7 linked regions of the Homo sapiens genome follow. The protein of the gene in region 1 purifies or fractionates together with the protein of each later gene. This does not show direct contact. Each region holds a gene or a part of one and is shown in the gene's direction. Other genes may lie near its edges.

The links.
Region 2: the proteins of NPC1 (region 1) and STK11IP purify together in Homo sapiens (affinity purification with mass spectrometry, with the first as the bait; one large-scale study listed by BioGRID). This does not show direct contact.
Region 3: the proteins of NPC1 (region 1) and GRAMD1A purify together in Homo sapiens (affinity purification with mass spectrometry, with the first as the bait; one large-scale study listed by BioGRID). This does not show direct contact.
Region 4: the proteins of NPC1 (region 1) and NCSTN purify together in Homo sapiens (affinity purification with mass spectrometry, with the first as the bait; one large-scale study listed by BioGRID). This does not show direct contact.
Region 5: the proteins of NPC1 (region 1) and TMOD3 purify together in Homo sapiens (affinity purification with mass spectrometry; 2 studies listed by BioGRID, with this or other methods). This does not show direct contact.
Region 6: the proteins of NPC1 (region 1) and TM7SF3 purify together in Homo sapiens (affinity purification with mass spectrometry, with the first as the bait; one large-scale study listed by BioGRID). This does not show direct contact.
Region 7: the proteins of NPC1 (region 1) and BACE2 purify together in Homo sapiens (affinity purification with mass spectrometry, with the first as the bait; one large-scale study listed by BioGRID). This does not show direct contact.

The regions. Positions count from the first base shown.
Region 1 is NC_000018.10:23,559,007-23,562,506, reverse strand, and holds part of NPC1 (NPC intracellular cholesterol transporter 1 precursor), read left to right. Parts: intron 1-979; coding exon 980-1,147; intron 1,148-2,026; coding exon 2,027-2,276; intron 2,277-3,500. UniProt on the Homo sapiens protein: Intracellular cholesterol transporter which acts in concert with NPC2 and plays an important role in the egress of cholesterol from the endosomal/lysosomal compartment.
Region 2 is NC_000002.12:219,604,357-219,607,856, forward strand, and holds part of STK11IP (serine/threonine-protein kinase 11-interacting protein), read left to right. Parts: intron 1-1,251; coding exon 1,252-1,378; intron 1,379-1,599; coding exon 1,600-1,703; intron 1,704-1,838; coding exon 1,839-1,934; intron 1,935-2,119; coding exon 2,120-2,161; intron 2,162-2,355; coding exon 2,356-2,502; intron 2,503-2,622; exon of another isoform or gene 2,623-2,627; coding exon of another isoform or gene 2,628-2,696; coding exon 2,697-2,781; intron 2,782-3,500. UniProt on the Homo sapiens protein: May regulate STK11/LKB1 function by controlling its subcellular localization.
Region 3 is NC_000019.10:34,998,836-35,003,122, forward strand, and holds the start of GRAMD1A (protein Aster-A), read left to right. Parts: upstream 1-1,487; 5' UTR 1,488-1,643; coding exon 1,644-1,651; intron 1,652-2,298; exon of another isoform or gene 2,299-2,409; intron 2,410-4,287. UniProt on the Homo sapiens protein: Cholesterol transporter that mediates non-vesicular transport of cholesterol from the plasma membrane (PM) to the endoplasmic reticulum (ER).
Region 4 is NC_000001.11:160,356,416-160,359,449, forward strand, and holds the end of NCSTN (nicastrin isoform 1 precursor), read left to right. Parts: intron 1-184; coding exon 185-339; intron 340-625; coding exon 626-838; intron 839-1,733; coding exon 1,734-1,856; 3' UTR 1,857-2,534; downstream 2,535-3,034. UniProt on the Homo sapiens protein: Essential subunit of the gamma-secretase complex, an endoprotease complex that catalyzes the intramembrane cleavage of integral membrane proteins such as Notch receptors and APP (amyloid-beta precursor protein).
Region 5 is NC_000015.10:51,895,653-51,899,152, forward strand, and holds part of TMOD3 (tropomodulin-3), read left to right. Parts: intron 1-766; coding exon 767-874; intron 875-3,500. UniProt on the Homo sapiens protein: Blocks the elongation and depolymerization of the actin filaments at the pointed end. The Tmod/TM complex contributes to the formation of the short actin protofilament, which in turn defines the geometry of the membrane skeleton.
Region 6 is NC_000012.12:26,971,079-26,973,731, reverse strand, and holds the end of TM7SF3 (transmembrane 7 superfamily member 3 precursor), read left to right. Parts: 3' UTR 1-2,153; downstream 2,154-2,653. UniProt on the Homo sapiens protein: Involved in the inhibition of cytokine-induced death of pancreatic beta cells. Involved in the promotion of insulin secretion from pancreatic beta cells.
Region 7 is NC_000021.9:41,171,160-41,174,659, forward strand, and holds part of BACE2 (beta-secretase 2 isoform A preproprotein), read left to right. Parts: intron 1-3,500. UniProt on the Homo sapiens protein: Responsible for the proteolytic processing of the amyloid precursor protein (APP).

The DNA.
Region 1 (3,500 bases):
ATCTCCTTGAAGATTAGGGAAAGAAGATCCTGGGAAGTTTCTAGCAAGCAGAGACTGGTAAATGAGAATCGACAGTACAGGACCCATTCCAGCTATTTTCTTAGGTGTAATACACTGATACTATCCTTATATAATGTGTTGTGTGTATGTGTAAGAAAATAAAATCCAAAAAGATAACAGTATTAGGGGTTTTTTTTGTTTTTTTTTTTTGTTTTTTTGTGATGGAGTCTTGCTCTGTCACCCACGCTGGAGTGCAGTGGCGCAATCTTGGCTCACTTCAAGCTCTGCCTCCCGGGTTCATGCCATTCTCCCGCCTCAGCCTCCCGAGTAGCTGGGACTACAGGCGTCCGCCACCACGCCCGGCTAATTTTTTGTATTTTCAGTAGAGATGGGGTTTCACTGTGTTAGCCAGGTTGGTCTCCATCTCCTGACCTGGTGGTCCGCCCACCTCGGCCTCCCAGAGTGCTGGAATTACAGGTGTGAGCCACCGTGCCCGGCCAACAGTATTAGGTTTATTGACACGTGACCTCTGCTCTAAAACCAGTTTTCCAAGTAAGTTCCATAATTCTCTGGCTGTGTAGCTTCCTGCGGCAGAGGTTTTCTGGAACCAGCTTTGTTAACTGAAGAAGTACTGAGGCTCTTAGCTGCGTCTTCCTGGGCCTTGGTATACTCTTCTATATAGTGGGGATTTGACTTCTCCAAGCTGTTGTGAGAGCTATGAGATAACGTGTGCCTTTCCCTTTCCTGTCTGTTTTTTACTTTTAAGTTACTTGGAATCGGGCCTCCATATTATTTGCAGGGTGATAAGCCAATTTAAAGGGAATCTCTGTTCGTGCCCTTAGTTAGTGTTTGCTGTCCAGCATTCCAGCATGGTGCATATGGAGTTCGTGTTTCCCTTCAAGAGGCCTTTTGTAAGATCTTGCCTCGTGAATTACAGCAAGCATCTTGTCTCCTTTTTCCTTTGGGTTTCCTCTTCTAGCAATGTACAATGCCTGCCGGGATGTGGAGGCCCCCTCAAGTAATGACAAGGCCCTGGGACTCCTGTGTGGGAAGGACGCTGACGCCTGTAATGCCACCAACTGGATTGAATACATGTTCAATAAGGACAATGGACAGGCACCTTTTACCATCACTCCTGTGTTTTCAGGTAGGTATAAAGATTCCAAGTTTGGTGTGTTTATGATATTGTTTTAAAGCCAAGGAACTGGCTGGGCACAGTGGCTCACCAGTGCTTGGGGAGACTGAGGCAAGAGAATTGCTTAAGACCAGGAGTTCCAGACCAGCCTGGGCAATGTAGTGAGGCCCCATCTCTATGAAAGAATTAAACATTAGCCAGGTGTGGTGGCATGCATCTGTAGTCCCAGCTACTTGGGAGGCTGAGGCAGGAGGATTGCGTGGGTCCAGGAGTTCAAGGCTGCAGTGAGTTACGATCATCCCATTGTACTCCAACCTTGGTGAGGGCAAAGCCCTGTCTCTCCATGAATGAATGAATGAATCTTAGTTGAGGAAGCATAATCTACAATAGGAAGATAAACACATTCAGGTAACTAGTTCATAGTTTCTCCCAGTAAGAGAGGTAACTGGTACATTTATCCTGCTGTGGCTAATTTAGGGGGTGCTGGGAGTGGGAATGGAGGAGGAAATGAATTGCCTTCAGGCATTGCTGTCATAATTGAAAGAATAAGCAGTTAAAAAGGGGGTGGGAGGCAGCTTTTCTAGAGCTCTGCTATAGTATTAGCTCCTGAGAATGGAGATGGGACATGATTGAAGGGTTGCCTTGGTATGTGGTGTACTTGGAGGATTCCTCTATCAGTGACAAACCCCTACGCGCAAGTTTATTGAGGTAACTTAAAATTCCATAGGACGAAGCAGCAAAACATAATTTAATTAAACTAAAACCTCCAATTCTTTTTCTTCTTTCAGTTGTTTTATGTATTTCAGTGGGCTTTTCTTTGAGTTTAAGTATAATACAAAATTTTGGATGTTTTTAATTGAGATTTGTACTCAACACAATTCCTTTCTGTAGATTTTCCAGTCCATGGGATGGAGCCCATGAACAATGCCACCAAAGGCTGTGACGAGTCTGTGGATGAGGTCACAGCACCATGTAGCTGCCAAGACTGCTCTATTGTCTGTGGCCCCAAGCCCCAGCCCCCACCTCCTCCTGCTCCCTGGACGATCCTTGGCTTGGACGCCATGTATGTCATCATGTGGATCACCTACATGGCGTTTTTGCTTGTGTTTTTTGGAGCATTTTTTGCAGTGTGGTGCTACAGGTAAGCAGTTTTGTTTGTCATCCAGGGCAAAAAGAGCAAAATTGCCCACTGGCACTTTGAGCTTTCATTTGTCAGAGCTTGGTTACTTAGGACAAGAAACAAATACCTCCATGAATACCATTGCATGGATTATTGTGTCCTACAGCTATTCTATAGTAAACCATCAAAGTTCTGTTTAACACTGCAACATCTGAAATGAATTTTACTGATTTATTCAAAATGATGTGTGATTTAAAGCACTGTGCATTAGCCACTGATTCTTTTTTTTTTTGGAGACTGAGTCTCACTCTTGTCGCCCAGGCTGAAGTGCAGTGGTGTGATCTCAGCTCACTGCAACCTCCACCTCCCAGGTTTAAGCAATTCCCCTGCATCAGCCTCCTGAGTAGCTGGGATTACAGGCATCCGCCACCATGCCTGCATGCCTGACTAATTTTTGTATTTTTAGTAGAGACGGGGTTTCACCGTGTTGGCCAGGCTGATCTCCAACTCCTGACCTCAGGTGATCTGCCCGCCTTGGCCTCCCAGAGTGCTGGGATTACAGGAGTAAGCCACCGTGCCCAGCCGGCCACTCATTCTTTAGAAAGTCAGAGTCAAGGCCAGGCTCAGTGGCTCACACCTGTAATCCCAGCACTTTAGGAGGCCAAGGCAGGAGAATCATGAGGTCAGGAGTCCATTGCAAACAGCCCTGGCGACAGTGCGAGACTGTGTCTCACCAAAAAAAAAAAAAAAAAAAAAAAAGTCAGAGTCAAATGAGCGAAATCAGATTCAAATCTAATTAAATGGAGTACTATAGTCCTTTTAGATATTTGCATCTTAATTTAGGACAGTACTTTTTTTACTTTTTATTTTGAAATAATTGTAGACTTAACCAAAAAGTTGCAAAATGGTAGAATTTATGTGTATCCTTAACCCAGTTTCCCCGATGATACAACTTACATAACTCATAGTACATCTAGAACTAGAAATACCATTTGACCCAGCCATCCCATTACTGGGTATATACCCAAAGGATTATAAATCATGCTGCTATAAAGACACATGCACACGTATGTTTATAGCGGCACTATTCACAATAGCAAAGACTTGGAACCAACCTAAATGTCCAACAACGATAGACTGGATTAAGAAAATGTGGCACATACACACCATGGAATACTCTGCAGCCATAAAAAATGATGAGTTCATGTCCTTTGTAGGGACTTGGATGAAACTGGAAACCATCAT
Region 2 (3,500 bases), on another chromosome or scaffold:
AGGAGCCTGAGTAGGGTTTGATCAAGGTGAGAACCTCCTCTAATTCAGGGAAAGAAGAGACACTCCTCTTTCCCCTGAACAATATAAATCCTTTTCTTCCTTGATCACCTTTTGTTCACTAAAAACCAACTGAGCCATTTATTGGGACTTGGTAGTGGATGAATTTTGCTGGATGGTGAGAGTGACCAGGCATTTAATGGGGGACATTTCTATGGAAACAAAAAGGGAAACAAAGATGAATGGTTGGAGCAGACTATAAATCCATTTTCTGAGTCCAGAGGGCAGCCAGTTGAGATTTCTAGGTGTTGAGCTCTATGTTTCTTTAGATGGTGGAATGAGGATAGCAGTGGCAACCGATGGATTTCTTCGTTTGTAGTTTGAATGTTTGTGGTGATAGCATAGACAGTGTTGCAGTCACGGTTATTTCCCTGAACAGAGCCTGGAAGATACAGAAGTGTCAGTGGACTTTTTTCCTTTTTTTTTTTTTAATGAGACAGAGTTTCGCTCTTGTTGCCCAGGCTGGAGTGCAATGGCACGATCTTGGCTCACCGTAACCTCTGCCTCCCGGGTTCAAGCGATTCTCCTGCCTCAGCCTCCCAAGTAGCTGGGATTACAAGTGTGTGCCACCACGCCCAGCTAATTTTTGTATTTTTAGTAGAGACGGGGTTTCACAATGTTGGCCAGGTGAGTCTCGAACTCCTGGCCTCAAGTGATCCCCCCTCTTTGGCCTCCCAGAGTGCTGGGATTACAGGCATGAGCCACTGCACCTGGCCGGCTGGGCATTTTAAAAGAGGGCGGCGGGGAGTGGGCAGGGGAATGGTAGGGCCTTGAGCAGAGCTGGGGGAGTGGAAATCAGGTTGGTCCACATGAAACCCATCTGAGTTTGCTAACTAACTGGCACTTACCAAAATAAGGCCCTTACCCTTTCACAGAGACTGGGAGACGGGGCCCTATCTTCAGGAGTTGGCTGAAACAAATGGGAAATTCTTTTGGCAGCTTTGACTTTTCCCAGGCAGGAATTTAAGGGGCTTGGAGTTGCCATGCTCAGGGTGTGGCCTTGAACTGTTAGGAACAGTGCTGGTGTTGTTCAAGTCTTTTAACGTGGGAGTAGGGGTGGATGAAATCATTTGTGCTGAGTGTGTGCAGTTTTATATAGGCCAAGGTTGAGGCCTAGTCCAGAAGAGGTCTCAGAGGACCCTGGCTAGAGTTTGGTCAACGAGATAATCTTTTTCTCCCCTGTACCCCTGCCAGGATTTGTGTGAGCTCCACCATCTGGACATCTCCTATAATCGCCTGCATTTGGTGCCAAGAATGGGACCCTCAGGGGCTGCTCTGGGGGTCCTGATACTGCGAGGCAATGAGCTTCGGAGCCTGCATGGTGAGTGGGGGTGTGTGATGGGGCAAGCATGGAGGGGAAGGGGGAGAGTGAGGCTGGGGCTGGCCTGGGGACCATGTGCCTCTAGAGCCTTGAGAGGGCTTATGGGGAGTGCAGGGGTGCTCTGGCCGGTCTTTCTGCTGCAACCTCCCCCAGTGCATGCACCACACTCACTTGCGTGTACTCATCCACATGCTCTTCCTTCCTTCTTGCGTCCACCCCAGGCCTAGAGCAGCTGAGGAATCTGCGGCACCTGGATTTGGCATACAACCTGCTGGAAGGACACCGGGAGCTGTCACCACTGTGGCTGCTGGCTGAGCTCCGCAAGGTGAGATGGGAATGCATCAGGGGCCTGGGAACCACCCTTGCACGTACCCCCCCATGCTGGTTTGGTCAGTGCCTTCTTCACACAGGGAGGGCCAGGGCCCCAGGCCCTCCTCATTCTCCCCTTCCTGCCCCTCAGCTCTACCTGGAGGGGAACCCTCTTTGGTTCCACCCTGAGCACCGAGCAGCCACTGCCCAGTACTTGTCACCCCGGGCCAGGGATGCTGCTACTGGCGTGAGTGATCGTCCTGTGTCCACTCTTCTTCCCCTTTCCTGCCCAGTCCTCCCCCACCTTGCACCCTCTTGCCATCCCTGGGTGAGGGGCCAAGGACCTGGACCCTGCTTACTGTGTTCTTAATACCTGGAGCTCAGCAGGATGGGCCTACCACATACTCCCTCCCCCTTTTTGTCTTTGCTCAGTTCCTTCTCGATGGCAAGGTCTTGTCACTGACAGATTTTCAGGTCGGTGTGGTTGGGGGGCGAGGACTGTTGGGGGAAGACACGAAGGGAGGGCGCTGGGGAGAGAACAGAGGGCTGGCTGGTGACAGGGTCTTCCTGGTCAGTGGAAAGTAGGGTCCCGCCTTTTGGCTGGCTTGGGCAAGGCAGAGGTGCTCCCAGGCTCCAACCTCTCTCTCCTTCCTGTCGTCACGTGCCAGACTCACACATCCTTGGGGCTCAGCCCCATGGGCCCACCTTTGCCCTGGCCAGTGGGGAGTACTCCTGAAACCTCAGGTGGCCCTGACCTGAGTGACAGCCTCTCCTCAGGGGGTGTTGTGACCCAGCCCCTGCTTCATAAGGTTAAGGTAAGCAGCGTCCTCCGCTGCCTTGTGCCTGCGGTTGGGTGTCTCTCCGGGGACTCTGGGCTACAGTGGGCAGGGAATGGTAGGAACTGTGCTTGCACGTGGTCAAGGTTTCTTTGATAGGTTGGATGGCCAGCCGTGGATGGCAGGGCTGGAGGCTTGGCTTTCACAGAACTTCTTCCCTCCACCAACCTCAGAGCCGAGTCCGTGTGAGGCGGGCAAGCATCTCTGAACCCAGTGATACGGACCCGGAGCCCCGAACTCTGAACCCCTCTCCGGCTGGTAAGTCAGCTTCATCCCACTAACCTCTCTCGTCCCCAGCGAGCTCACTCTAATTTTTAAGTTACAGTGAAGATCTGCTGGAAGAAATGTTATTTTTTGTTGGGGTAGAGTATTATAGAGGGCTTCTTAGTCTTTTTTCTTTTCTTTTAGTTTAGGGAAAGGAGAAGACTGCTTCTGGGAGCATTTTGAAAACTTTTCGAGGAACATTAATTTTGTGGGGTGTCAAGAGATCATGTAGGCCAGGTGCAGTGGCTTACATCTGTAATCCCAGCACTTTGGGAGGCTGAGGTGGGAGGATTGCCTGAGCCCAGGAGTTTGAGACCAGCCTGGGCAACATAGAGAGATGTCCATTTCTACAAAAAAATTTTTAAATTAGCCTGACGTGGTGGTGTGCGCCTGTAGTCCTAGCTACTTGGGAGGCTGAGGCAGGAGGATCGCCAGAGCCTGATAGTTCAAGGTTGCAGTGAGCTATGATCATGCCACTGCACTCTAACCTGGTGACAGAGTAAGACCTTATCTCTTAAAAAAAAAAGTAAAAAACCCCAAAACAAAAGAAAGTGTATATGTATATATATAAAATAATAGGATTGTGGCCAGAGAAGTTTGAGAAATGTGAGGTTGAAGAGAAATAGGTGTGTCAGCTGCCGGCCGTCTCGGGCCCTTCAGGATGCTATCATGTATGCTGAGTCTCTGGAAGTAGCATAGGATGCGCAGCTTGG
Region 3 (4,287 bases), on another chromosome or scaffold:
AACCAGTGCAAAGGTCTTGGGGTAGGAGGCAGGAAGGTGCCTGGTGAGTTAGAAGAACAGCGGGTAGGCTGGATGGGGGGTGTGAGCCAGGGGGAGATGAGGAGCTGAAGTCAGAGAGCTGACAGGGGCCTTGGGTGCCAAGGTGAGGACTTTGCTTTTACCTGGAGTGAGGTACAGCTGGGGCAGGGCTCTGAGCCAGGAGGGTAGTTAACTGACTCAGGTGGTCCCAGGCTCTCTCTGGCTGCAGGTGAGAACAGACAGTAGGGGCAGGGATGGGAGCAGGGAGATCAGGCAGGAGAGGATGGAGGCTGGGCCAGGGCGTGGGCAGCGGAGGAAGAAGAGTTTAGAATGGAGCGATTGATTTTATACGTGGAGCCCACAGTTTGTGACGGATTGGATGTGGTGTGAAGGAAAAGAGAGGGTCAGAAAAGACTCTGAAGTTCTGGGCCTGCCATTCATCAAAATGGAGAAGTCAGGTGGGCTTCTTTTGCAGGAGGAGGGGAAGGGTTGATGGAGAGGGTTGGGAAGGGAGTTTTTTCAAAAGAGGCGGGGACAGCGTACCCTGGAGAGCGCTGGGGAGCCACAGCCCCGGAGCTGTGAGGTGGGACTCGCATTTCTGTGTGGTTGGGCCAGGAGTCCAGGACACCACCTGACTCTGACCTCTTGCAGACGGGGCGGGGGAGGGGGGACGCAGGTTATGGCGTCAGAGCAGGATCGAATCCAACTCTGCCGCCTACCTACCAGGTGACCCCAACAAGTCACTTCCCATCTTAGAGGCCGGGCTTCTCCTTCCGTAAAAGGACTGATTTTGCCCGTTCCTGCGCTGTCCCCGGGAAAAGCCCTTACCACCGAGTTAGTGGGACTCCCAGCACTGGGGTGATGAGCGCAAGGTCTCAGCACAGATAAGAGCCAGGGAGGCTGGATTCTGACTTGGTACTTGGCCTGGCTGACCAAAACTGGGAAGTCCCTAGAAACGGAGGCACCGGACCTCCTGGGACCAGGAACCCGGGCTCAGAGACTGGGAGAGGGAAGGAGGAGGCGGCCAACCGGCCCCACCCCTTCCCGCCAGCTTCAGGCCCCCTCCCCCATACATACACCTCGGTTTCCCAGCATCTCCAGTCCTCCCCCACCTTCGCCCCGGCTCTCAGGTTCCTCCCTGGGAGGTCCAGGAGCTTCTGGCCAGGGGCATAGTAGTTGCTAGGGACCCTTTTCTAGGTACTAGGGGAGGGGGCTCCCCAACCTGCGGGCAGGCAGCTGCCTCCACGATGTTTGGTTTTAATAAAGTCTCTTTGTTTCCTTCTCTGTCTCTCTGCCCCTCTGCTTTCCCTTCTCTGTCCAGTCCCTCTCTCCCCGGCTTCTCCCTCCTTCTAGGCCTCTGCGGCCCCTCCCCGCCTTCCCTCCCGGGCTGGGGGCGGCGCCGTGACGCGGCGGGGCGGGGGAAGGAAGGGGGTGTCGCTGACGCCGCGGCGGCCTCCGGCGGCTCCGGCCTTTTGTGCGGGCGGTTGGGTCGGGTGGGGGCGGCGGCCGCGGAAGGCCAGGCCGGTGCCCTGCGGGGACGCCCAGCGCAGCCCAGCCCCGCGCAGCCCAGCCCTGCCCTGCCCTGCCCTGCCCTGCGCCCGGGGCGCGCCCACCGCGCCGCATCCATGTTCGAGTAAGGACCGGGCGACTAGAGCTCAGGGACCGGGCGCGCGGGGGAGGCCACCGGAGGGAGGGGGCGCCGCGGGCTTGGGGAGGGGGCGGAGCGGCCGCTGCAGAGGTCGGGGGCCTCTGCACATGGCTCTGGCCGGGGCGATCGGGGTGGGGGCGGGGCAGGGGGCCCCCGGGCGAGGGGTGCAGCTGGGGAGTGGGGCGCGGACGCAGGGCAGGGCCCGGGGTCTGGGTCGCCACTGCCGGCCCGCGACGCACTGGGTTGCGGGGTTTGGCTGGGGGCCCGCGGGTTCATCTGGCGGGGAGGGCCCTCAGGCCTGGCAACCCCCTGCCTGGTAAGCCAGGGGTGAGCGCGAGGCCGAACTGGGGCTCCGGCCTGGGATGGAGACAGGATCGGGACCAGCCCAGGCCCACAGGCCGCGGAGCCCTGGGCGCGCCGGGAGTAGGCAGCCCCCTCCTGCCTGGGCCCCCTCCCACCGTCCTTGGCTGTTGCGGGTCTCGGGGCTGCCGGGGGTGGGGGCTTCCTGCGTCTCTCCAGGACCGCGTGCTTGAGGTCATGGAGGGCGGGGGGTCCTGTGTGCTCGGAATTGACTTCTTACTCCCCTTCCGGTCCAGGTGGGCGCATGTGCTTCCGACTGTGAATTGTCTTGCAAGTGTGTGTACGTGTGTCTGGGGCTGCTAGCCTGCAGCAGCTTTGGGCCTCTGATAGAGTTCCTGCGTGTAACTTAACCACTAATTCTGACCGCGGCTCTGTGTGTCACTGTAAGTTACCTGTGTGTGTCTGGGGCTCCAAATCTGTGGCTGTGAGCAGCTGGTTGTGTGCGTGTTGTGTCTCATTCCATCTGTAGCTCCCTGTGCAAATATAAATTACCCCTGTGTGTCTGAGTGTGACGTTGGAGTGTTTGTACATGTGTCTGGAGTTACCGTGTGTAGCAGCTCTGATCCTTCTTGGGCTGTGTGTGTTTTACCATTAATTCTATCTGTAGCTCCAAGCGTTGCTGTAAGTTACCAGTGTGCGTCCCATTGTGACTTAGTGGTGTGTGTACAAGTGTGCCTGGGGCTCTGGGTTCTACCATGACCCTCTGTGCCTGCATATGCCTGTAATTTAGCTCTGAAACGCTCTTCTTTTTTTTTTTTTCTTTTGAAATAGAGTCTGGCTCTGTCGCCCAGGCTAGAGTGCAGTGGCACGATCTCGGCCCACTGCAACCTCCTCCTGCTGGGTTCAAGCAATTCTCCTGCCTCAGCCTCCTGAGTAGCTGGGATTACAGGCGTGTGCCACCACGCCTGGCTAAGTTTTGTATTTTTAGTAGAGATGGGGTTTCACCATGTTGGCCAGGCTGATCTCGAACTCCTGACCTCAGGTGATCCACCCACCTCGGCCTCCCAAAGTGCTGGGATTACAGGCTTAAGCCATCGCGCCTGGCTTGAAACTCTCATTTAGCTCTGTGTGCCAATGTAAGTTACATTTGTGACATTGTTGTGTGTCTGGGGCTCTGTGAGTGTGGCTGTAACTTAATTTGATTCCATCTTTGTGTGAACATTCCCTTGTGTATTCCTTTGTGACAGTATTGAGTGGTGCCTAGGCCTCTCTGTGTACAGCTGAGACCCTCTGTGGTTTTGTGTGTGTGTGAACAGTGTGAGACCCCTTGTGGCTCTCTGTAGGCTTGGAACCCTCCCTTCTAAGACCCTGGGAGTACCCAGGGCACTTTGGAGGCAATAATGATAACTGACGTTGTCCACCTGTTACAGTTAGTATAGCATGTGCCACGCATTATTCCACTACCTGGCCACTGTGTCCTCGAGATCCACGCCCTGCTCGGCTGCATTATTCCCAAGTCCTGCTTGACTGTGAGCATCAGGGCTCTCCACCAGCTACAGCCACTGACACCTCCACCCCTTGCCACTTTACTTTTTCTTTTCCTTTTTCTCTTTCTTTTAGACGCAGTCTCGCTCTGTCGCCCAGGCTGGACTGCAGTGGCACGATCTCGGCTCACTGCAACCTCTGCCTCCTGGGTTCAAGCGATTCTTCTGCCTCAGCCTCCCTAGTAGCTGGGATTACAGGTGCGTGCCACCACACCTGGCTAATTTTTGTATTTTTAGTAGAGATGGGGTTTCACCATGTTGGCCAGGCTGGTCTCAAACTCCTAACCTCAGGTGATCCACCCGCCTCGGCCTCCCAAAGTGCTGGGATTACAGGCATCAGCCACTGCGCCCAGCCCCTTGCCACTTTAGAAGTAGCCTTTTCTCTGTCTTCCCTGCCAGATGGTGAGCCCAGTGCGGGCACGGGAACAACTCAGTGGGGATGTGTTGGCTGACCGTGGGACCTGATTTACCTGGGACTATGTATGTGTCACCTGGGGTCTTTTGGGACTGGTCTTTCACTGTATGGCTGTCTTTGGCTCTTTGCTGAGACTTCCTCGTGGCTATGTGTGTGAATATAATTTATCCGGGACTTTCTGTGGGTTGCTGTATGTTTCTGTGACCCTCTGCAGCTCTGTGTCTGTGTGCACACATGCATGTGTCTGGATAACTTTTCTGGGAAATTGCCATGTGACTGTAGCAGACTAGCAATGCTGCAGGTGTGTGTGTGTGTGTGTGTGTGTGTGTGTGTAATTACTCTGTGGCTCTCTGTAGCATACC
Region 4 (3,034 bases), on another chromosome or scaffold:
ACCTTTATTATTTTTTTTCTTTTTCCTCTCTGTTTTTCTTACCCCCTGTTTTCCTTTCTTTCTTCTCATATTTGATGGATCCTTTTCCATTGCCCTTCTTTCTGGCTGCTGCCAATCTTGGGCTTTTCCTATTTCACCCACCATCCACCCACCAAATCTTCCCTTCCCTTTGGTCTGCACTCAGGTGACGGGCCTCTTCAACATTACATCGCTGTCTCCAGCCCCACCAACACCACTTATGTTGTACAGTATGCCTTGGCAAATTTGACTGGCACAGTGGTCAACCTCACCCGAGAGCAGTGCCAGGATCCAAGTAAAGTCCCAAGTGAAAACAAGGATGTGAGTGGTGGTGGGTGTTGGAAGTGCCCTGGGGCCCCTTTCCCTTGGGAAAGTTGGAGGTTCTTCTAGACCTAGTTAGACCCAGGGGATTGGGATGGAGAGGTGGAGAGATGCAGTCCTCAGCAATTGGGTGTTGAAAAGCCTGGGTGAAAATGGACCATCTGAAGGGTAAAGGGACAGCAGCCAGTTAGCTCAATTGGTTAGAGCATGGCACTGATAGAGGGTAGAGGGAACGAGTGAGAAGAGGATCACCCTAGCCGTGTGTTGTGGCGCATCTTCTGTGCAGCTGTATGAGTACTCATGGGTCCAGGGCCCTTTGCATTCTAATGAGACGGACCGACTCCCCCGGTGTGTGCGTTCTACTGCACGATTAGCCAGGGCCTTGTCTCCTGCCTTTGAACTGAGTCAGTGGAGCTCTACTGAATACTCTACATGGACTGAGAGCCGCTGGAAAGATATCCGTGCCCGGATATTTCTCATCGCCAGCAAAGAGCTTGAGGTGAGATGGGGCAGGGGCATAGGTGGCAGGGATCTGTTTGACTTCTTTCTCTGCTTTCTTGTGTCATATAGCCCTTTCCATCTCCCATTTGCCCCACATTTGTAGCAAAAGCCTACTGCAAATCTGTCCCTGGTCAGCCAGCATGTTCCCTTAGGAGGCCTTTTTTTTGAGATGGAGTTTCATTCTTGTTGCTCAAGCTGGAGTGCAATGGCACAATCTCAGCTTACTGCAACCTCCGTCCCTTGGGTTTAAGCAGTTCTCCTGCCTCAGCCTTTCGAGTAGCTGGGATTACAGGCATGTGTCACCACACCCAGCTAATTTTTTTTTATTTTTAGTAGAGATGGGTTTCACCATGTTGGTCAGGCTAGTCTTAAACTCCTGACCTCAGGTGATCCACCTTTCTTGGCCTCCCAAAGTGCTGGGATTATAGGCGTGAGCCACTGCACCCGGCCAGGAGGCCTTTCTTCACAGATAGTTTGAGTAGGTGTTCATTCTGGAGAGCCCCTGTGGATCCCAGAACTCTTTCACAGCTTCAACTCCCGGCTGGCATTCCCCATCTGGCACAGCTGGGATGAGTCAGTCTAATGTACCGAGCTCCTGTCACAAGTCAGTAATGTAAGTGCCGCAAGGGAACCAAAGCCATGGGCCCTCCTTTCAAAATGCCTAAAATCTAAGTAATACAAGATGGAAGCAAGAACAGAGATGCTTTACTTCTCTTTTCAAATGGGGAGACAAAGTCTGTAGGCTGGAGAGATGTTGCCCATGATTATTCCATAGTTGGTGCTTAGAGCCAGCATCCGAATTCCCATGGCTCCAAACCCCAAACAGTTATCCAAAAAACTGCACTGAGTTCTGAGAATGCCTTTGTCCTTTCCTGCCCTCCCTCCCCCTGCAGTTGATCACCCTGACAGTGGGCTTCGGCATCCTCATCTTCTCCCTCATCGTCACCTACTGCATCAATGCCAAAGCTGATGTCCTTTTCATTGCTCCCCGGGAGCCAGGAGCTGTGTCATACTGAGGAGGACCCCAGCTTTTCTTGCCAGCTCAGCAGTTCACTTCCTAGAGCATCTGTCCCACTGGGACACAACCACTAATTTGTCACTGGAACCTCCCTGGGCCTGTCTCAGATTGGGATTAACATAAAAGAGTGGAACTATCCAAAAGAGACAGGGAGAAATAAATAAATTGCCTCCCTTCCTCCGCTCCCCTTTCCCATCACCCCTTCCCCATTTCCTCTTCCTTCTCTACTCATGCCAGATTTTGGGATTACAAATAGAAGCTTCTTGCTCCTGTTTAACTCCCTAGTTACCCACCCTAATTTGCCCTTCAGGACCCTTCTACTTTTTCCTTCCTGCCCTGTACCTCTCTCTGCTCCTCACCCCCACCCCTGTACCCAGCCACCTTCCTGACTGGGAAGGACATAAAAGGTTTAATGTCAGGGTCAAACTACATTGAGCCCCTGAGGACAGGGGCATCTCTGGGCTGAGCCTACTGTCTCCTTCCCACTGTCCTTTCTCCAGGCCCTCAGATGGCACATTAGGGTGGGCGTGCTGCGGGTGGGTATCCCACCTCCAGCCCACAGTGCTCAGTTGTACTTTTTATTAAGCTGTAATATCTATTTTTGTTTTTGTCTTTTTCCTTTATTCTTTTTGTAAATATATATATAATGAGTTTCATTAAAATAGATTATCCCACACGACTTGTACTGCTAGTTATTCTTCCCAGGCCACCTTGTTCAGCGAGCCTAGACTGGAAGTCATGAAGTTATCTTTTATGCTATCATCTTGGGCTCCAGAGGACCCAAGGAGTAAGGCTCTGTCAAAAACAGTTGAAGTCCTTTCAAATTGCAGAGCCCTGGTTCTCCTCTTGTAAGAACAATGTTAACATAGTTTCTTCTCACTTTGTAATGAACGGGCATTTTTTTTTTTTTTTTTTTTTTTTTTTTTTTTTGAGATGGAGTCTTGCTCTGTCACCCAGGCTGGAGTGCAGTGGCGCGATCTCGGCTCACTGCAAGCTCCACCTCCCGGGTTCACGCCATTCTCTTGCCTCAGCTTCCCAAGTAGCTGGGACTACAGGCACCCACCACCACGCCCAGCTAATTTTTTTTGTATTTTTAGTAGAGACGGAGTTTCACCATGTTAGCCAGGATGGTCGTGACCTCCTGACCTTGTGATCCACCCACCTCGACCTCCCAAA
Region 5 (3,500 bases), on another chromosome or scaffold:
TCTCTCCTTCAAGTAGTGTAGGGTTAATCTCTCTTAGTGCTTTGTAGCTTAAACTAAGTGACTGAGAACAGTCTGTCTGCCTCAGGAATCGTACTCATCAGAGATGGACTCCTTCATTTCTTTCCTTGTAGAAAAGTAAATCCACTTTTATTTTCATATAAAAAGAATAATGAAGGCTGGGTGCAGTGACTCATGCCTGTAATCCCAGCACTTTGGGAGGCCGAGGAGGGTGGATCACCTGAGGTCAGGAGTTCGGGACCAGCCTGACCAACATGATGAAACCCCATCTCTCCTAAAAATACAAAATTAGCTGGACCTGGTGGTGCATGCCTGTAATCTCAGCTACTTGGGAGGCTGAGGCAGGAGGGTTGCTTAAACCTGGGAGATAGAGGTTGCAGTGAGCTGAGATTGCGCCGTTGCACTCCAACCTGGGCAACAAGAGCAAAACTCTGTCTCAAAATACATAAATAAATAAAAGGAATAATGAAAGGTGAGAATAATGAGAATTTTTTTTAACCTAAATGCTAGAGAAATGGTGATATGTGCTCTGCTCTGAGTCAGTAGTTTATGCAAATGCTCCATCGTAGATAAGTCAGATAATTATGGAGGAAGCTGCATTATTTGTATTCATTTGTAGACTAATTCTTAGGTGTTTGTATAATTTCTGAATACATTTTAAAGCAAAAAAAACCATATATTTGATTAATGGAAACTAAATATAATGAAAATTGAAATGTAATGATGTTTTATGTTATTGTCTTTCAAGAATATCCCAATTCCAACCCTAAAAGATTTTGCAAAGGCTTTGGAAACCAACACACATGTGAAATGTTTCAGTCTTGCAGCCACCCGGAGCAATGACCCTGTTGCTACTGTAAGTAAGCGACTTGAGAATATCAAAATTATGACATGCCCAGGGTGTGTTACAGTGGTGATTTTTATGAACAAGATTTACCCCTTTTTTATAGTTAATGTTTTAGCTCACTATTAGGCAGTATATTACTTACCAGCTTTTTGTGTTTATTTTTTCCTGTATTTCCTTCCTATGAATTTTTTCCCCCTCCCAGCTTCCCCCTCCTTCCTATGAATTTTTTAAAACATAAATGGAATCATGTAGTATATGCTGTTCTGCAACTTGATTTTTCACTCTGCAGTTTATCTTTAAAGTTTTGTTGTATCAATACATAGGGATCTACCACATTATTTTAACATCTTCAGAGGATTCCATTTATGGATCCTTAGTGGTGGATTTTTGTTAAATGCTTTTGCTGTGTCTCTTGAGATGTTCATATGGTTTTTGTCCTTTATTCTGTCAATGTGGTGTATTGATTGACTTTTATATGTTGAACCAGCCTTTCATTCCTGAGATAAATCCCACTTGATCATGGTATAAACCTTTTGTTTCATTGGCTTTGAGAATATCACTCACTCCCTTGGGGGCTCCCCTTACCTCAGTGGACATTCCTTCTCAAAGCCCTGTACTGGTTTCTCCATATCTCTTCAACTTCTAAATATTGGAATGGCCCAGAACGTGGTCCTTCTTTTCTCAGTCTACACTGACTTTCTGGGTAATCTCAGAAATATATATATTATCTTCATATACTTGCTGATGACTCCCAGTGTTATTATCTACAGTTTGTATCTCTCTCCTGAACTCCGTATTCATGTCCAGCTACCTCCTCAGCAGCTTTACTTGGATGTCTAATGGACATCTTACATGTAAGTCCTCAAACTCCTGACTTCCATCCTGTGCCTGCTTTTCTCTGCTGTTTTCTATCTTACTAAATGCAATTTCAATCTTTCATTGCTCAGGCAAACAAAAAAAAAAAATTTTTTTTTTTTTTTTTTTTGAGACAGCGTCTCACTCTGTTGCCCCGGCTAGAGTGCAGTGGCGCAATCTCGGCTCACTGCAACCTCCGCCTCCCGGGTTCAAGCGATTCTCCTGCCTCAGCCTCCTGAGTAGCTGGGATTACAGGCATGCGCCACCACGCCTGGCTAATTTTTGTATTTATAGTAGAGATGTGGTTTCACCATATTGGCCAGGCTGGTCTCGAGCTCCTGACCTTGTGATCCGCCCACCTCAACCTCCCAAAGTGCTAGGATTACAGGCGTGAGCCACCACGCCCAGCAAAAAAAAAAAAAAAAACAAAAAACTAATGGAATCATTCTCGACATCCCTTTCTTGCAACTTAAACCTACCTTTGGCCCTATCTTCAAAATATTTCAGAATCCAACCACTTCTCACCATTTTCACAACTACCACCTTGACCCAAGCCACCATCTTTTCCCACCTGGATTATTGCAACAGCCTCCTAATTGGGTTACCTTCATCTATTTTACCTACCCCAAAGTCAGTTCTTTACATAGCACCAAGAGTGATTCTTTTAAAACTTAAGTTAAATGACCTCATTCCTATTCGGATAACCCTCTAGCAGCTTCCCATCTCATTAAGAGTAAAAATAAAAATCTTTCAGTGGCCTTATAAGGCTTCACATGAGTGGACTTCATCTCATTTACTTGCCCTTTCTTTCATTCTACTCTAGCCATACAGCCTTCTTCAGCATGCCATGTGGACTCCCAAATCAGGGCCTGTACATTTGTTCCTTCTGCCTTGAACTTTCTTCCTAAAATAATCCACTTAGCTTTGTCTTATCACTTTGACTCTTTGCTCAAATGTCACCTTCTAGTTGAGGCTTTTCCTGACCGTGCTATATAAAATACCAACCCCATTCCCACCCCCAGTATTCCCCATCTACCCTATTGTGCCTTTTTTCTTTTTACCCTCTAACATTGCACTTTGCTTACTTTTATTATCTGTGTCCCTCCCCAGCTAGAATGAACATTCTGCCAGGCAGGGACCAATGTGTTTTATCTCTGAATCTCTAGGACAGTGCTAATCAAATAATAGACCATCAGTAATATTCGAATACATGTATGGATAAGGGATTTGTTCCAGGTCACATAGCTAGTTGTTGCTAATAGAAAGGACAAGTATGTAGATACCAGCCACAGTTTTTTTAGTATCTCTACGCCCTATTGCCTTTCCTTTAACTTTAAGCTTGGTCTTACCCATATTTTCTGTAGTTTAACCTTGCTTTTGATCCCTCTAAGGGGCTGTTTTATATAAACTCATGATCATTGTTCTTTTTTCTCTCTCTTTCCTTCCCCTCCTTCCTTCCCTTCTTCTCTCTTCCTACCTCTGTCTCTTTTTCTTTCCTTCCCAGTCTCCCTCCTCTTTCTTTTTTCACTTGTAGGCTTCTGTTAATTAATCAATATGGTACTTATTAAGCACTGAGTCAAATGTCTAACACTGTACTGTATCCTATGAGAAATGAAATAGAAGCAGATTGAAGACATACCATTACTTGAGGAATTTAATATTTTATTAGCCCCTTCTTCTCAATGGCCTTTGTGCTCTTCTGGTTCTGGTTATCTGTGTTCTTTTCTGGCCTTCTGCCTTGACCATTTCTTTTGGCCCCTGCCTTGGAAATTAGTACATA
Region 6 (2,653 bases), on another chromosome or scaffold:
ATACTTGAGAAATTACCTTTTGGTTTACAAATCTATGATCAACTTATTCCATTAAATAGATACATTAAAAAAATTAAAAACTGATTCTTCTGCAGAGCACTGGTGTTTCTTTTTATAACCCCTTGAAACAAGTCTCTCACCTGAGCCTGTCTAAACTTTCGGAGGGAGTTTATTATTGAGTCTTTATCTGTGACAGTATTTGGAGATTTAGGGATTTGATACTTAGGCCTTTGAATTTTAGAATACAAAAAGAGAAGCAAGCCAGACATGGTGGCTCACACCTGTAATCCCAATACTGGGAAGCCAAGGTGGGAGTATCGCTTGAGCCCAGGAGTTTGAGACCGACATGGGCAACATGACAAGACCCCATCTCTACAAAAAAATTAAAAAATTAGCCAGGCATGGTGGCACATGCCTACTCCCAGCTCCCAAGGAGACTGAGATGGGAGGATCCCTGGAGCCCTGAAGATTGAGGCTACAGTGAGCCTTGATTGTGTCACTGCACTCCAGCTTGGGTGACAGAGACCCTGTCTCGAGAAATTAAAAAAAAAAAAAACTTATTTTCTTACTAAAAGCAGTCTGATTACTTAGTTGCATGCCCTTCTTAGTATCATACATTATCCAAAAGTTACCCTTTGTTTTTTTTTCAGTATTTTTTAAAATTTTTAAGTTGTGATAAAATACACATGAAATTTACCTTCTTATTCATGTTTAAGTGTACAATTCAGTAGGTTCCCTTTGTTTTTGCCTTTTATTGCTTAAAATGGTAATTGAAATAGCTAAATTATTATTTGAAAATAGGCCAATTTATATAGATAATAGAATTTTATAAGGGTGATTTATATTCCAAATAATGGCCCCCTTTTTTTTTTCAAGGCCTTTTCAAATAGTGTCAACAGGTGATCTTTAATTTAACTGCATTAGATGACATATGGATTACTTTTGTTTTTAGGAAATAACCCCCACCTTAATCTATATTGCCGACCAGGTGCGGTGGCTCAAACCTGTAATCCCAGCATTTTGGGAGGTCGAGGCGGGTGGATCACCTGGGGTCAGGAGTTCGAGACCAGCCTGGCCAACATAGTGGTCTCTACTATAGTATAGTAGAATATATACTACTACACCCTGTCTCTACTAAAAATACAAAAATTAGCTGGGTATTGTGGCAGGTGCCTGTAATCCCAGCTACTCGGGAGGCTGAGGCAGGAGAATCGCTTGAACCCAGGAGGCAGAGGTTGCAGTGAGCCAAGATCACGCCACTGCACTCCACCCTGGGCAACAGAGCGAGACTCCGTCTCAAAAAAAAAAAAAGTCTGTATTGCCATTAATAAGAAAACCTTAGAAAAATTTGTACTTCATAGTTCTTTCTGCTCAATTAGCTGTTAGCATTAGTGTAAAATATAGTTTTTAATAATTTCTGTACAAAGCCTTTGTACAGAAAGGCTTCATCCTTAAAGTGATGAGAATGGAGTCAAAAAGGATTCAGGTGTTTAGAGGAGCTGCTTTTCATTAGGACCTTGGAGAGTCCCCTCAGTTTTGACACCCTTGTTTCACCACAAGAAAGCACCCGACACCCTGGGTTGCATACTTACTACTCAGGGGCTTTCCCCCCAGCTTTCAGAGCACTGAATTATTGTGAGCTGGTGACTCTGCAGGCCTGAGTGGTATTAGGGTTGTGGAATGTTGTTGCATACACGTTTATGAGTTAACCACTATTTAAATGATGCTGCTTTTTAAAGTTTTTTCAAAGTACAATAGATTTTTGAAGTTTCAGGTAACTGGAAAAATATTTAACTTTTGCTTTAAGTGTTTGGGGCAGGATAAAACAACATAGAAAATATAAAACAATTTTTGCTTTGAAAAATACAGTGCAGGTGACCATTTACTGCTTATTCTGTAATCCTTACTGTCTATAATTAACTTCAGTAACACTGAAACTTGATGAAAAGTTTTAAAAAATTATTTACTGTAGGGACAAAGTTATATGGAATGTTTGTTATTTTCTATACTATCTGAATGCACTGCCAGTGAAGACTGTAAAGACAGAACACACTATTTTGGAGGGAGGATACTAATTGTTTAAAATTTTTCATCATTTGTGAGTGATAAAAAGTTTGTATAGTTTTTATAATAAATCCCTATTTTGAAAAAAATGCTAAAAAGCCTCATTAAATATTTTCATAAAATTTTTCAGATTATATTTGTACCACAGCAACAAGACATGACGAGTTTCATAGCTATAAAAGTTATTTAATATGGGCAAACAATATAGTTCTTCATTTTTAAAAAATCACAAAGATAATAACAGGAAATGAAATCTGGGGCAATGTGTTAAAAGACTAATTTGGTGTTATTAGCACTTCAGGTGTGTCAGACTAAAGAAAAGTAGTAGTTAACAGGAAACTCTGTTGAACTGTTCTTTAAAATGTTTTCAGAAAGTTCTGATTAATCTGTTATAGGTTAGCTACCAGGTTGCCAAACCATACTAGGTATATTGTACCACAGGCCAGTTGAGTTTTCTGTAGCAGGTGAAATAGAAAACTGATTCCAACAAAGAAATTGCTAGAATATTAAACCTTCAAAGGACTTCAGAGGTCATGTTCACTGACCTCTTTAATACCTGAGGAAATTCTTAAGTTAATGATATGAAGTC
Region 7 (3,500 bases), on another chromosome or scaffold:
GTTAGGGACTTATTGTATGACTGCAACTGGACCCTCCGGAACTCCGTGCTGTTCCCCCATCTCCTCTTTCCTTCAGCACTGCTGAATGAGCAACAGAATGAAGGGCTGGATCCAGGTGTGCACGGGAGAGGCCTTGAGAGGAGAGGTTCAACAGGAACCAGAGCCCTCCAGCTCCCCTTCTTTTATGGGAAAGTCAACTGTTGGAAGTGTGCTTGTTCCCCGAAGGCTTTAATCAGGAACTAGAGGTCCATTGTTTAAAGCCCAGTGACTCTGTGAGGAGTCACAGGCATGTGCCCGGAAGCCCGCCTGAGAGCTGCAAGGCGTGTGTGCTGGCAGGCAGGGCCACGTTGGCATGGAGATGACTGCCAGGTTTGCGGCTGATCCCATTATGTGGGTTCTTTCGAACTGTAGAACTTTTGAACAGTTCTTTCAACCAGCACCTGCTTGAACCGTGCAATTTGGTCTTATTAATAATAACACTCTTCTAAAGTAATTATAATTACAGCAATTTCTATTATGAAAAAAGAGACTTTCATGTTAACACAATAACTCCAGCTGAAGACAGGAGAAGGTGTGCAGCCATATACCTTGTAGTAGCTTCAAAAAAAGCCTTTGGGATTCTTTTTCTGAAAGATTTTCTGTCATCTCCACTAACATAGGTAAAGCAGACAGCAAAACTATTCTCATACCTGAACACTTGAATGTAAAGGGCCACCTAATTATTTTGGCGAATCCTATTTTAATCATGGTGCATTCACTTGATTATCAGCCTCTTAGTACACAATTATTTGGAAGACTTGTATTGAAAATATGGATCCAGCATATGCAATAAGAGTTTGTGTTCTTCAGAAGAAGCCATCCAGGCTCCCCAAATGAAGCTGACTGTAGGTGAGGCTGAAAACAAGAAGGCAATCCCAGCAAGAAGAAATCTGATGGAGCCACTTGAAATGGTAAACTATTAAAGACAATGAGAAAAAACAATTACTGAGGTTGAAAGAACAAGAAAGTCAAAGCCAGTTTGCCACCAGCTCCTTCGAGTGAGAAGTGGCAGCTTCTGGGCTTTAGAGAAAGAATTCATCAAAGACTGTATTACAGAGGACTGGGAAAGGTGAGCCAAGAAATCAGCTTGAAACAACAAGGAGGGACAGGAGTCTGAGAAATAGTTTATAAGATCAAGAGCTGACCTTGATTTCTTGCTGATGGAGTGTTGGACACTCAAAGGGCACGTGAAGCCCTGTGCGTGGCTCACCTCATTGTATCCTTGCAACGTCCTGGAAAATGTGCACAACAATGTGACTTAATTTTCAGACAGGGTAACCGAGGCTTGGAGAGGCAGAGTAGTTTGTCCAGGGCCACACTAGTGAAGGCAAAGCAGGGTGGAGCTGTCAATCTGGGTCAGCCCAGCTCAGTCTTTGCACGTCACTGCCGTTCCTCCTTAGGTGCAGTGTTTTAGTTACAGTAACTTTTTAAGAAGAACCATCTTCATGCTTCTGGAGATGATGTGGTTTGACAGGAAGCATCCTGATGTGATTACAGGTCCTGAGCACTGTAGTGTCACACCTGTGACCAGGAGCAAGTGTGTAACCTCCCTCATCTTCCCTTTCCTCAGCTGTGGAGAATCAAATTTCTGCATTAATGTCCTGGTCTCAAAACAATAGAAACTTGTTCTCATAATTCTGCAGGCCAGAGTTCAAAAAGCAAGGCGACAGCAGAAACACTGTCCCTCCGGAGGCTCTGGGGGAGGATCCTTCCTTCCCTCTTCTTAGTGTCTGATGGCTGCTGGCATTTCTTGACCCTTGGCCGCATGACTCCAATCTCTCCCCTCCATGTAAGTTTCTGTGGCCAAATTCCTCTCTTCTTATAAGGAGACCAGTCATTAGATTAGGGCCTGCCCTCCTCTAACCTGACCTCATCTTTACTTCATCACATCTGCATAGACCCACTTTCTGAATAAGGTTAAGTTCACAGGTACCGGAGTTACGTCTTCAGCATATCTTTTGGGGAACATGATTTAATCCACAACAAGTTCATTCTAAGTTTTTCATTCTATGGATTTTTTTTCTTTGATTCTACCTCACCTTTTAATTGTTAATAATTTCAATTTGGGATTCAAGTGTAATTGTTATCACAGGCAATACACAAATGACGATTTTAGTGCTGTATTGATATGAAGCCTGCGGCAAGAGAGTGCCCTGGGGCTTAGGGTGGGAGAAGGAAGAGAGGAGTGTTTCTGCTTCCCTTCTGTACTTCTGTATTGTTTTTCCTGCTGGAGAGTAACTGCTTGAAAATTTAAAATGTCAGGCGGGGCGCGGTGGCTCATGCCTGTAATCCCAGCACTTTGGGAGGCTGAGGCGGGCGGGTCACCTGAGGTCAGGAGTTTGACCTGACCCAGCCTGGTCAACATGGTGAAACCCCATCTCTACTAAAAATATGAAAATTAGCCAGGCATGGTGGCTTATGTCTGTAGTCCCAGCTACTCAGGAGGCTGAGGCAGGAGAATTGCTTGAACCTGGGAGGCAAAGGTTGCAGTGAGCCGAGATCGTGTCACTGCACTCCAGCCTGGGCAACAGAACGAGACTCTGTCTCGAAAAAAAGAATTTAAAATGTCCCATGTCATGTTGCACTAATTCTAGAATTGCTGAAATTAATGTATAATATGAGAGAAATCCAATGTGTACAAGATTAGATCAATGATATTTAAATACCTATGAGTAATAAACACTTATGTTGGGATGGATGTAGAAAGCTTCAGTATTTCATGTTTTAAAGACATTATAAGGCAACCCCCTTATCAATCAGGATATATTTAATATGAAACAGGTGCTTCCCCCCATACTTCCCGCCATACTCATCCCTGATCTCCTTGTGTGATCTCCTTGTTGTAGGTAAGTTGGCTTCACCTCCCCTTGCCTGCCCATTTTTCCTTTTTCCTCCTGGAATGATCCCAAAATGATAAGGATAGCTGTTGTGATCAGTGGCCTTTTTTTTTTTTTTTTTTTTTTTTTAAACAGTCTCGCTCTGTTGCCAGGCTGGAGTACAGTGGCCTGATCTTGGCTCACTGCAACCTCCACCTCCCAGGTTCAAGCGATTCTTCTGCCTCAGCCTCCTGAGTAGCTGCGACTACAGGTGTGTGCCACGACAACCAGCTAATTTTTGTGCTTTTAGTAGAGACGGGGTTTCACCATGTTGTCCAGGATGGTCTTGATCTCTTGACCTAGTGATCTGCCCACCTCGGCCTCCCAAAGTGCTAGGATTACAGGCGTGAGCCACCGCGCGGCCAAGTGGCTATTCTTTTGTGGTGGTGGTACGTAGCTGCATTGCTCCCAGGGGTGGAGAGGGAGGAATTTAAAGGTGGTGTTTCTCTCCTTCTCCCTAGTATCTGACAGCATGCCTTGGGATTTATGTAACATCTCATTCATAGACTAGAGCAGGTCAAGCATTGGCCCCTGAATTCAGGGTCTACCTGTGCTGGAGAAGAGGTGGGGGGTTAGTGGGCACTG